2 separate regions of the Homo sapiens genome follow, and region 2 is linked to region 1. The links come from fine-mapping of genetic effects on gene expression. A gene starts in region 1. The other region holds a variant in brackets. All regions are shown on one strand. Distances are from middle to middle.

Evidence for each region. PIP is the estimated chance that this variant, and not a neighbour inherited with it, causes the effect. A credible set is the group of variants that fine-mapping cannot tell apart.
Region 2: its variant is the best candidate, but not a certain one, in a credible set for the expression of DDA1 in whole blood (INTERVAL, PIP 0.59).

The regions. Positions count from the first base shown.
Region 1 is chr19:17,307,290-17,312,657 of GRCh38, reverse strand. It overlaps DDA1 (DET1 and DDB1 associated 1), which reads right to left and starts at 3,095. Exons shown (of 5, transcript NM_024050.6): 1 at 3,001-3,095. The coding sequence starts at 3,003. RefSeq lists enhancers at 1-441, 2,667-3,230, 3,320-3,509, 3,231-3,792 and a silencer at 2,780-2,879.
Region 2 is chr19:17,352,941-17,358,308 of GRCh38, reverse strand. The region is part of intron 5 of PLVAP (plasmalemma vesicle associated protein); the gene reads left to right. Among named protein-coding and RNA genes, the nearest start is that of GTPBP3, 18 kb to the right of the region's middle. The variant C/T (reference allele first, on the strand shown) is at 2,649.

The DNA of each region.
Region 1 (5,368 bases):
CCTCGAGGGCGCAGTGTGAGGTGCAAGGCAGAGCTCTGGCCCATTTAGGGGATAAAGGAGGGCTGCCCAGACGCAGGGATGCAGGCACTGAGACCTGAAGGGTGAGGAGGGGTCCCTGTCCCCCTTCGCAGCCCTGGCCCAGCTTGCCCCTGCTGGACTCCCATCATACACACCCTCTGCCACACACACCCTCTAGGAATGCCCCTCATGCCTCCATGTGGCAAATACCTGCTAACCTCCCCACCAGCTCCAACACCCTCCCTGGCCCCTTTGTTCCCCCGACACTTCGGGAGCCTCTCCCAGAGCCTCCCTCACACCCCGGCGAGGTCATCTGCTTACATGTCCACCTCCCTGGCTGGACTGGTACCTCCCCAAGGGAAGAGGACAGGACAGGGCTGACTGAACCCTGGCCGGGCTCACACAGGGCCCGGTGGCTGAGTGGCGAGAGGTGCAGGTACTCCGGGCATTCTGCTCTCAATCCTGGCTTAGCCCGTCCCTGGTTGTGTGACCTGGGACGAGGGACTTCCCAGCCTCTGGGCCTCCCTGTGAAGAGACGCATTCCAACAGGGCCACCTCCCAGGGTTACTCTGAGTCATAAGACAACAAGGGGAATGCTTTGCACAGAGCTCCCTCAGGGGCAGCCTTTAGGATCAACATGTCTGCGTTGGACAAATGAATGAAGGCAGGGTACGTGCAGCCTTCCTGTCATGCTAAGCTGGAAAACAAGGCCTCGAGACATGGGGGCAGGGGGTGGGGGAGGCCTCATTCCAGACAAATGCCAGCCACGGCTGGGCCCTCACAGGTGCCTCAGCAGACACGCACTGGACACCTGTGTGCCAGTCCCACTGCAGGTAGCCTGCCAGAGACCCAACAAAGAGATGAGAAAGAGAAGCAGTACACTAATAGCAGAGAACTGGGGGCCCCCCAAAGTCAGGAATGACCTCGATCACAGGAGGAAGAGTGTTCCGAGCAGAAAGAGCAGCAGGTGTAAAGGCCCTGGGGTAGCAGGAACCTGGAGTGTGAGGAAGTGAAAACAAGGCCAGGGTGGCTGAAGCTCACAGACAGAGTGGAGAAGAGAGTGGAGATAAGGTCATAGAGGTGGCCAGGGGCCTCAGGGTGAGGAGGGGAGCCGCCAGGGTTCCTGGAGCATTTTATAGGCTAGAAAGTGGTATCATTTGATGCACATCTTTAAAAGCTCCTTCTGGCCGGGCGCAGTGGCTCACACCTGTACTCCCAGCACTTTGGGAGTCCGAAGCGGGTGGATCACAAGGTCAGGAGTTCAAGACCAGCCTGGCCAATATGGTGAAAACCTGTCTCTACTAGAAATACAAAAATTAGCCGGGCATGGTGGTGGGTCCCACCTACTTGGGAGGCTGAGGCAGGAGAATGGCTTGAACCCAGGAGGCGGAGGTTCCAGTGAGCCGAGATCATGCCACTGCACTCCAGCCTGGGCGACAGAGCAAGACTCCATCTCAAAAGAAAAAAAAAAAACAACCTCCTTCTCAGGCCCCATGCAGTGCCTCACACCTGTAATACCAGCACTTTGGGAGGCTGAGGCAGGATCACTTGAGCCCAGGAGTTTGAGACCAGCCTGGGCAACATAGGGAATCCCCATCTCTCCAAAAAGTACAAAAATGAGCCTGGTGTGGGGATCTCTTGAGCCTCCAGTCTGGGCGCCAGAGTGAGACCCTGACTCCAAAAAAAAAGTTCCTTCTGGTTCAGGTGAATTATGAACTGCCAAAGGGGTGAGAGCAAGGCTAGGAGACCAGGGAAGAAGCTGGGACAGGTATGCAGGTGGGAAGTGGCAGTACCTGCAACAGGGCATGAAGCCATGGATGAATTCAGGTGTGTTCAGAAGGCAGAGACAATCTAATCCACTTATGATTGGCTGTAGGGATGAGACTGTACCAAGGTATCAAGGACAACTCCCAGGCTTGGGGACCCGCACACTAGGAACCCACCTTCCCATTTCCTTCCTGAAAGGGAGTCTTCCTTTCATCCCCACCACATCCCAAGGACTGTGGATTGTGGGCTGGGACTCTGGGTCAGGGGACAAAGGAGACTTGAGGTATCTTGACCAAGCTTCCCATCACCCTTCCCAGCCCTCAGGATGCCAACTAATGGGGGTTGTGGAGAGGCTTTAGTTCCACTCTGAGGGTGGGTCACCATCCCACTTTTCAGGTGGGGAGACTGAACCCCGAAGAACCACCAGACCCAAATTCCAGGATGACTGAGGAACCCTGAAGGAATTTCAACCTTCCAACAGCCAGGTGGGGACGATCCACACTTCATAATGAGGGGACAGCTAGAAGAGAACGTCACTGGCCTCGAGTCACCCAGCTCATCTGTTGAGCATTCACTATCCTGAGTCCTTTACGACGTCAGTTACCTAAATTGTCACCACCCTAAGAGGTTCAGACTACTGCTACCCTCATTTCACAGGGACAATCCATGCGGATCGGAGATAAAAGTTTTTCATTCTTAGAGGCGGGTAAGGGCCCAGAATGGTGGAGGTGGGGTCAGGGCCCGGGGAACCGGGACAATCGGCGATGTCGCACTTCCTTTGGCGACAAAGCCCTGCATATCGCGGTGCCAAGCCCCCTCCCCCGCCCCGGGGCCCAGGCCGGCCTCCCAAATTCTCCTGAACTGAAGAGATCCAGGTCCGGCGTGCTGAGAACGAGGCCAGACCAGGGGGTCTTACGGGACCCCATCCCCACCCCAGACGATTTCCGGGGGGAGCCGCAACCCGGAAATGAATGAGTTGTCAGGGCTTGGTATCCTGGATGGGGTCAGGGGTCGGAGAAGGAGTGGCAGTGGGATCAGCAGGAAGCTCTCGGTAGGGTCCGGGGGTCGAAGGTCACAGGTGAGTGGGAGGGGCGGGCCGGACCTGAGGGGACCGGGCAGAACGGAGAGGGGCCTAGGGGGATACTAGAGGTGGGTGGGACCACAGCGCCATTTTGTCTAGCAGAGGGGGAGTGGGGGCCTGGAGGCCATCCTCACCATCTTCTGTTTCCTCCGTCGCCGCCTCGGCCGCCGCCTCAGCCTCCACCGCCGCCACCAGAGCCGCCTTCTTAGCCGCCGCCTCACAGTAACTTCCAGCCACGGCACAGCCCACACTGATGGCGCCACCACCTCCCTGTCATTGGTGTGCAGTCTAGCCCCGCCCCCACATAGGAGCGCTTTGCACGCTTCCATTGGCCGCATCCAGCTAACTCATGCGCCCATTGGTTGCCACGCCTCCTCCCATTGTGGTCAAGTTCGGTTGAAGAAGCAAAGCACCTCCCGGTACTTGGAAGCAATGAAAGTGAGATCCGGAAGTGGGCGGAGGCCTCGGCCGCGAAGTCTCTTGGGAGCTGTAGTTTACAGCTCCGCGAGGCTCTCTAGAGCTTTTGTGTGTCTGTGTGTTTTTAAGATGCGAGGTTCGGCCGGGTGCGGTGGCTCACTCCTGTAATCTTAGCACTTTGGGAGGCCGAGGCGGGTAGATCGCCTGAGGTCAGCAGTTCGAGACCAGCCTGGCCAGCATGGTGAAACCCCATCTCTGCGCCTGTAATTCCAGCTAGTAGGGAGGCTGAGGCAGGAGAATCACTTGAACCCGGGAGGCGGAGGTTGCAGTGAGCCAAGATCGTGCCATTGCACTCCAGCCTGGGCAACAAGAGCGAAAATCAGTCTCAAAAAAAAAAAAAAAAAGCCAGCCGGGCGCAGTGGCTCACGCCTGTAATCCCAGCACTTTGGGAGGCCGACGCGGGTGGATCACGAGGTCAGGAGATCGAGACCGTCCTGGCTAACACGGTGAAACCACGTCTCTACTAAAAATACAAAAAATTAGCCGGGCGTGGTGGCGGACGCCTGTAGTCCCAGCTACTCCGGAGGCCGAAGCAGGACAACGGCGTGAACCGTGAGTGAGGCGGATCTTGCAGTGAGCTGAGATCGCGCCACTGCACTCCAGCCTGGCGGACAGAGGGAGACTCTGTCTCAAAAAAAAAAAGGCGGGGCACGGTGGCTCACGCCTGTAATCCCAGCAATCCCAGCACTTTGGGAAGCCGAGGCGGGCGGATCACGAGGTCAGGAGTTTGAGACCAGCCTGGCCAACATGGTGAAACCCCATCTCTACTAAAATACAAAAATTAGCCGGGCGTGGTGGCGGGCGCCTGTCATCCCAGCTACTCAAGAGGCTGAGGCAGGAGAATCGCTTAAAACCAGAAGGCGGAGGTGTCAGTCAGCCGAGATTAAGCCACTACAGTCCAGTCTGGGCAACAAGAGCTAAACTCCCTCTCAAAAGAAAAAAAAAAAAAAGACACAGGGGTCTTGCTATGTTTCCCAAGCTGGTCTCGAACTTCTGGCCTCAAGCAATCCTCCAGACTTGGCTTCCCAAAGTTCTGGGAGCCATCGTGCCGGCATCTTCTTGTGTTTATTACGTTTTTAAAGCAGCCCTAGAAGATAAGAACCATAACACTCCCTAGCTCCTCCTCGACACCGTCTTGCTCAACCACCTCCCGTAACTCCCTAGTATTCAATCCCACCTCCTTGGCCCCATTTATGGGCACCTGCGGTCTTCATTGCCCACCTGTGTCCTCACCTCTAACCAATTCCTTCTATGTCTGGGCTCTCCCAGACCTTGCCATTTCCTCCAAGACTTCCCTGACTGCATTCTTCAAAAAGGCAAGTCAGGTACCTTCCCTGAAGTCCTACAGCCCTCACAATCCCCCTCCCAGCCCTGACACCTCTGTGTCCAAACTGCCTTCCTGACTTCCAGGGCAAAGAATGGGCACCCAGCACACAGCAATTGCACAGTGAAGTTGCTAAGTGGAAGCTACTAAGTATTATTACTCCAACAGCAACAGAGCAGAGGAGAAACCAGCACTGCATTTTATAGGCGACAAATGCACCTCACAGTGTTAAATTCTTGCTCAAAATCAAACATCCCCAAGGGACAAGTGGAAGATTCAAACTCCTTATGGGCTGGAGTTCAAGACCAGCCTGGTCAACATGGTGAAACTCCCCTCTACTAAAAATACATAAATTAGCTGGGCGTGGTGGCATGCACCTGTAATCCCAGCTACTTGGGAGGCTGAGGCACCAGAATTGCTTGAACCCAGGAGGCAGAGGTTGCAGTAAGCAGGGATCCGACAACTGCACTCCAGCCTGGGTGACAGAGCGAGACCCTGTTTCAAAAACAAACACCCCCCCGCACACACACACAGTTTTCCACCAGTCTTCCCAGACCTATAAAATTTATGACACAGGCTGGGCATGACGGCTCACACCTGTAATCCCAGCACTTTGGGAGGCCGAGGCAGGCAGATCACCTGAGGTCAGGAGTTCGAGACCAGCCTGGCCAACATGGTTGAAACCCCGTCTCTACTAAAAA
Region 2 (5,368 bases), 46 kb before region 1:
GTCCAGCTCCATTTCCACCTCTTCTTCTTTTTTTTTTTTTTCCTTCTTGCATACCCTCTCCAACAGGGAGCTCACTCCCTCGCCAAGCTGTCTCTCAACCCCTTTGCTCTAGATGGCTCTGTCTGGGAGAAAGTTCTCAGCCCTGAGCAGCCCACAGGGAGGGAAACAAAAAGGTGAGGAGGAGATTCCCCGCTCCAAGCAAACACAATTTTCCTCTCTCCATCTTGGCCGAAAGCCCTCATGGCAAGGAAGGAGGTTCTATTATTATCCCCACTTCTCAGAGGAGGAAACTGAGGCCCCAGGGAAGTGAGCAGCCTGGGGTCACACAGTGGAGAATCAGGGCCAGGCCCGGGCTCCCAGCCCAGGACTGTCAGGGCCTCGGCTGAGAACCAGGGAAGCTCTTGACATTGTTTACCCCGAAATGACGTCCACCTGCCGAGAAAACAATGTGTACTTAAGCCTGGACCTTGCCTGCTTCTCTCCTCACGGTCGCAGGAAGGGCTTCTGGCCTGCTGGCTTCTGCCCTTGACTCGCCTTCCCCTGAGAGAGGCCGGGGGCAAGTGGGCTGGGGCTGTCTGCTCTGGGTTAACTGGGCAACTTGGGGAGAGTCACTGGAATTTTATTTTTTTAATCATTATTTTTTTCGAGACAGGGTCTTGCTCTGTCACCCAGGCTGGAGTGCAGTGGCACGATCATAGCTCACTGCAGCCTCGAACTCCTGGGCTCAAACAATCTTCCTGCCTCAGCCTCCCCAGTGGTTGAGCCTACAGGTACACTCCACCATGCCTAGCTAAATTGTTATTTTTTTGTAGAGACAGGGGTCTTGCTATGTTGCCCAGGCTGGATTTGAACTCCTGGCCTCAAGTGATCTTCCTGCCTCGGCCTCCCAAGTAGCTGAGTCACTAGAATTTTAGATGCACCTAATGAGGTGCTGGGACAAGACTCAGCATTAAATCACCCACCTCATGCATCGGGAGAGTTGATTTTTCCTTTTCCACTCCTTTTTCTTTTTTTTGAGATGGACTCTCACTCTGTCTCCTAGGCAGGAGTGCAGTGGCGCAATCACAGCTCACTGCAACCTCCGTCTCCTGGGTTAAGCAATTGTCCTGCCTCAGCCTCCTGAGTAGCTGGGATTACAGGAGTGTACCACCACACCTGGCTAATTTTTGTATCTTTTTCTACAAAATTTGTAAAAATTTTGGGGTTTCACCATGTTGGCCATGCTGGTCTCAAACTCCTGGCCTCAAGTGATCCGCCCTCCTTGGCCTCCCAAAGTGCTGGGATTAGAGGTATAAGCCACCCCCTCCGGCCTCCACTCTTACTTCTTCTTCTTTTGTTTTTTTGTTTTTGAGACGGAGTTTCTCTCTCGTTGCCCAGGCTGGAGTGCAATGGCCCGATCTCAGCTCACCGCAACCTCCACCTCCTGGGTTCAAGTGATTCTCCTGCCTCAGCCTCCCAAGCAGCTGGGATTACAGGCATGCGCCATCACGCCCGGCTAATTTTGTTTTTTTAGTAGAGACGGGGTTTCACCATGTTGGTCAGGCTGGTCTCGAACTCCCGACCTCAGGTGATCCACCCACCTCAGCCTCCCACAGTGCTGGGATTACAGGCGTGAGCCATCACACCCGACCCACTCTTATTCCTTCTAAGCCTTGATAAAATCTCAGTTTAGTGGGACAAAGTGGCTCACGCCTGTAATCCCAGCACTTTGGGAGGCTGAGGAGGATGAATTGCTTGAGTCTAGGAGTTCAAGTCCAGCCTGGGCAACATAGCAAGTCCTCGTCTCTAAGAGAGAAAAAATAAAATTCTCATTAATATAGTGTTTAGTTTAAAAAAATAAAATAGACAAAGCCTTAGCTGGTATTAACTTGCTCTAACGGCTTCCAGACACTTGCGCATCTCCCGTGTTCCCAAATCGATGGCCGACGCAGGGCCCCACATCAGCTGGGCTTCGGCGTGAGGTCTTGCTCTTATGGAAAAAAAATCTTTCTTTTTCTTTTTAGATGGAGTCTCACTCTGTCGCTGGGCTGGAGTGCAGTGGCGCAATCTCTGCTCACTGAAACCTCTGTCTCCCGGGTTCAAGCGATTCTCATGCCTCAGCCTCCCGAGTAGCTGGGATTACAGGCACGTGCCAGCATGCCCGGTTATTTTTTGTATTTTTTAGTAGAGACAGGGTTTCACCACATTAGCCAGGCTGGTCTCGAACTCCTGACCTCAGGCAGTCCGCCCGCCTTGGCCTCCCAAAGTTCTGGGATTACAGGCATGAGCCATGGTGCCCGGCCTATGGAAAATTTTAAAGTCATTTTCTGTTGGTGATGTGTGCGCCAGCTTTCCTTTACTTGATGAGACTGAGTGTCCCTTCCTGCAGATCACATGAGGCAGAGCAAAAACAAAAACAAACAAAAAAAGAAGTAGAGACTGAGTGTCTTTGGAAATCAATGTAAGTTTCTTTAAAAACGATATAAAGACAGTAATGGCTGGGTATGTTGGCTCACACCTGTAATCCCAGAACTTTGGGAGGCTGAGGCGGGCAGATCATGAGGTTAAGAGTTCAAGACCAGCATGGCCAACATGGTGATACCCTGTCTCTACTAAAAATACAAAAAATTAACTGGACATGGTGGAGTGTGCCTGTAATCCCAGCTACT[C/T]GGGAGGCTAAGGCAGGAGAATTGCTTGAACCAGGACCTGGGAGGTGGAGGTTGCAGTGAGCTGAGATTGCACCACTGCACTCCAGCCTGGGCTACAGAGCGAGACACTGTCTCAAAAAAAAAAAAAAAAATTAACCAGGCATGATGGCATGCACCTGTAGTCCCAGCTACTTGGGAGGCTGAGGCAGGAGGACTGCTTGAGCCGAGGAGTTCAAGGCTGCAGTGAGCTATGATCACGCCACTGCACTCCAACCTGGGTGACAGAGGAAGACCCTGCCTCTAAAACGTTTTTTAAATGGCAAATATTAAGTAAATCTTGGTCCAGGAGCTATGTGGCTGAATATGGCAAAAATTGCAATGGGAAGAGCTTTTTTTAAAAAAGATTTTATTATTTATTTTATTATTATTATTATTATTATTATTATTATTATTATTTTGAGATGGAGTCTCACTCTGCCACCCACGCTGGAGTACACTGGTGTGATCTCAGCTCACTGCAACCTCCACCTCCCAGGTTCAAGCAATTCTCCTGCCTCAGCCTCCCGAGTAGCTGGGATTACAGGTGCCCGCCACCAGCCTGGGTGATTTTTTTTGTATTTTTAGTAGAGATGGCGTTTCACCATGTTTACTAGGCTGGTCTTGAACTCCTGATCTCAGGTGATCTGCCCGCCTCAGCCTCCTAAAGTGCGAGGATTACAGGCTGGGCCACCACACCTGGCCAAGATTTTATTTTTATTTTTAATTTTAATTTTTTTTTTTTTTTGAGACGGAGTCTTGCTCTGTCACCCAGGCTGGAGTGCAGTGGCACGATCTCGGCTCACTGCAAGCTCTGCCTCCCGGGTTCACGCCATTCTCCTGCCTCAGCCTCCTGAGTAGCTGGGACTACAGGTGGCCACCACCACGCCCGGTTAATTTTTTGTATTTTTAGTAGAGGCGGGGTTTCACTGTGTTAGCCAGGATGGTCTCGATCTCCTCATCTCGTGATCCGCCTGCCTCGGCCTCCCAAAGTGCTGGGATTACAGGTGTGAGTCACAGCGCCCGGCCCTTTTTTTTTTTTTTTTTTTGAGACAGAGTCTCGCTCTGTTTTCCAGGCTGGAGTGCAATGGTGCCATCTCGGCTCACTGTAACCTCTGCCTCCCAGGTTCAAGTGATTCTCCTACTTCAGCCTCCCGAGTAGCTGGGATTAAAGGCATGCACCACCACACCCGGCTAATTTTTGTATTTTTAGTAGAGACGGCGTTTCGCCATGTTGGCCAGGCTGGTCTTAAACTCCTGACCTCAGGTGATCCGCCCACCTCCGTCTCCCAAAGTGCTAGGATTACAGGTATGAGCCACTGCGCCTGGCATTATTTTCTTAATCTTTTTTATTTTTTGAGAGAGTCTTGCTGTGTTGCCCAGGCTGCAGTGCAGTGGTGTGATCTTGGCTCACTGCAACTCCCACCTCCTGGGTTCAAGCAATTCTCATGCCTCAGCCTCCCAAGTAGCTGGGATTACAGACATGCATCACCAGGCCCGGCTAACTTTTGTATTTATAGTAGAAATGAGTTTTCACCACATTGGCCAGGCTGGTTTTGAACTCCTAGCCTCAAATGATCCCTCCACCTCGGCCTCCCAAAGTGCTGGGATTACAGGCATGAGCCACCGCGCCCGGCCGTATGGGCTTAAGATGGGAGTCCAGCCCTGGCTCTGAGCTGGACACGTGGTTAATGTTGTTCAAGTTCACTGTTAACGCCTCTGATGATTCGTGTGTCCATTCGAGCCGTATTTATTGAGCAGCTGCTGGTAACCGGGCATGGTGCTGGGTGCTGGGAACAAGGCACAGAAACCCGCTGCCCTCATGGGGCTCACAGTCTAGTGGGAGAGATGGATAATAAATTAGATGAACGGGTCACTCAAGGGTCCTTTGGTGATGGGCGAGACAGAGAAAGGGGCAGGAAGCGTAAGAAGGTTGGAACTTTCTACCAGAGACAGGGCAGGCTACACCGAGGAGGTGATATTGAAGCAGAGACCCAGAGGAGGTGAGGGAGGAGCCATGGGGGGATCCCAGGAAGGGTGCACCAGACAGAGGACACAGCCAGGGCAAAGGCCCCAAGGTGGGACCGTGCCTTGTGTGTTTGAGGGAAGAGGCCGGTGTGGCTGGAGTGGAGTGATGGAGGGGAACGGGAGGAGGAGGTGAGGGCAGGGAAGTGATGGGAGCTGATCAAGCCCTGCCTGTGGCTGCTGTGAGGACCTGAGCAGACGGGGGATGTGCATGACCCAGTTCAAGCATCCACAAGTTCCTCTGGTCACTGTTGGGGAACAGACTACGGGACAAAGAGCTGGGGACCAGGACAGAGGGATGTGCATTGACCCAGTTCAAGCAAAGATGGAGCCTTGCAGGCTGGCAGCAGGGACAAGAGCTGGGTAAATGCTGGTTGAGGATGGAGTCTGGGGCCAGGGCCAGGGCCCAGAGCCAACCAAGGAACGTGAGGCCACTCGGGCCCCAGGGAAGAGCCGGGGAAGGAAGGGAGAGGACCAGCGGAAGCGGGACTTAGCCACAGCCCCCTCCTCCCCCAGCAGGAAACAGGCTCTAAGCCAACCCCTGACCCCTCGCAGGAACCTCTGCCAGGCCCAGGAGGGGGAGGGCATCCCAGATAGCAAGACAACTCCGATCGTGCAAAGGCGGTGGGGCCGGAGGGTGCGGAAGCAGTGTGATGGCTCTTGGAATTGTTGGGTCTTTG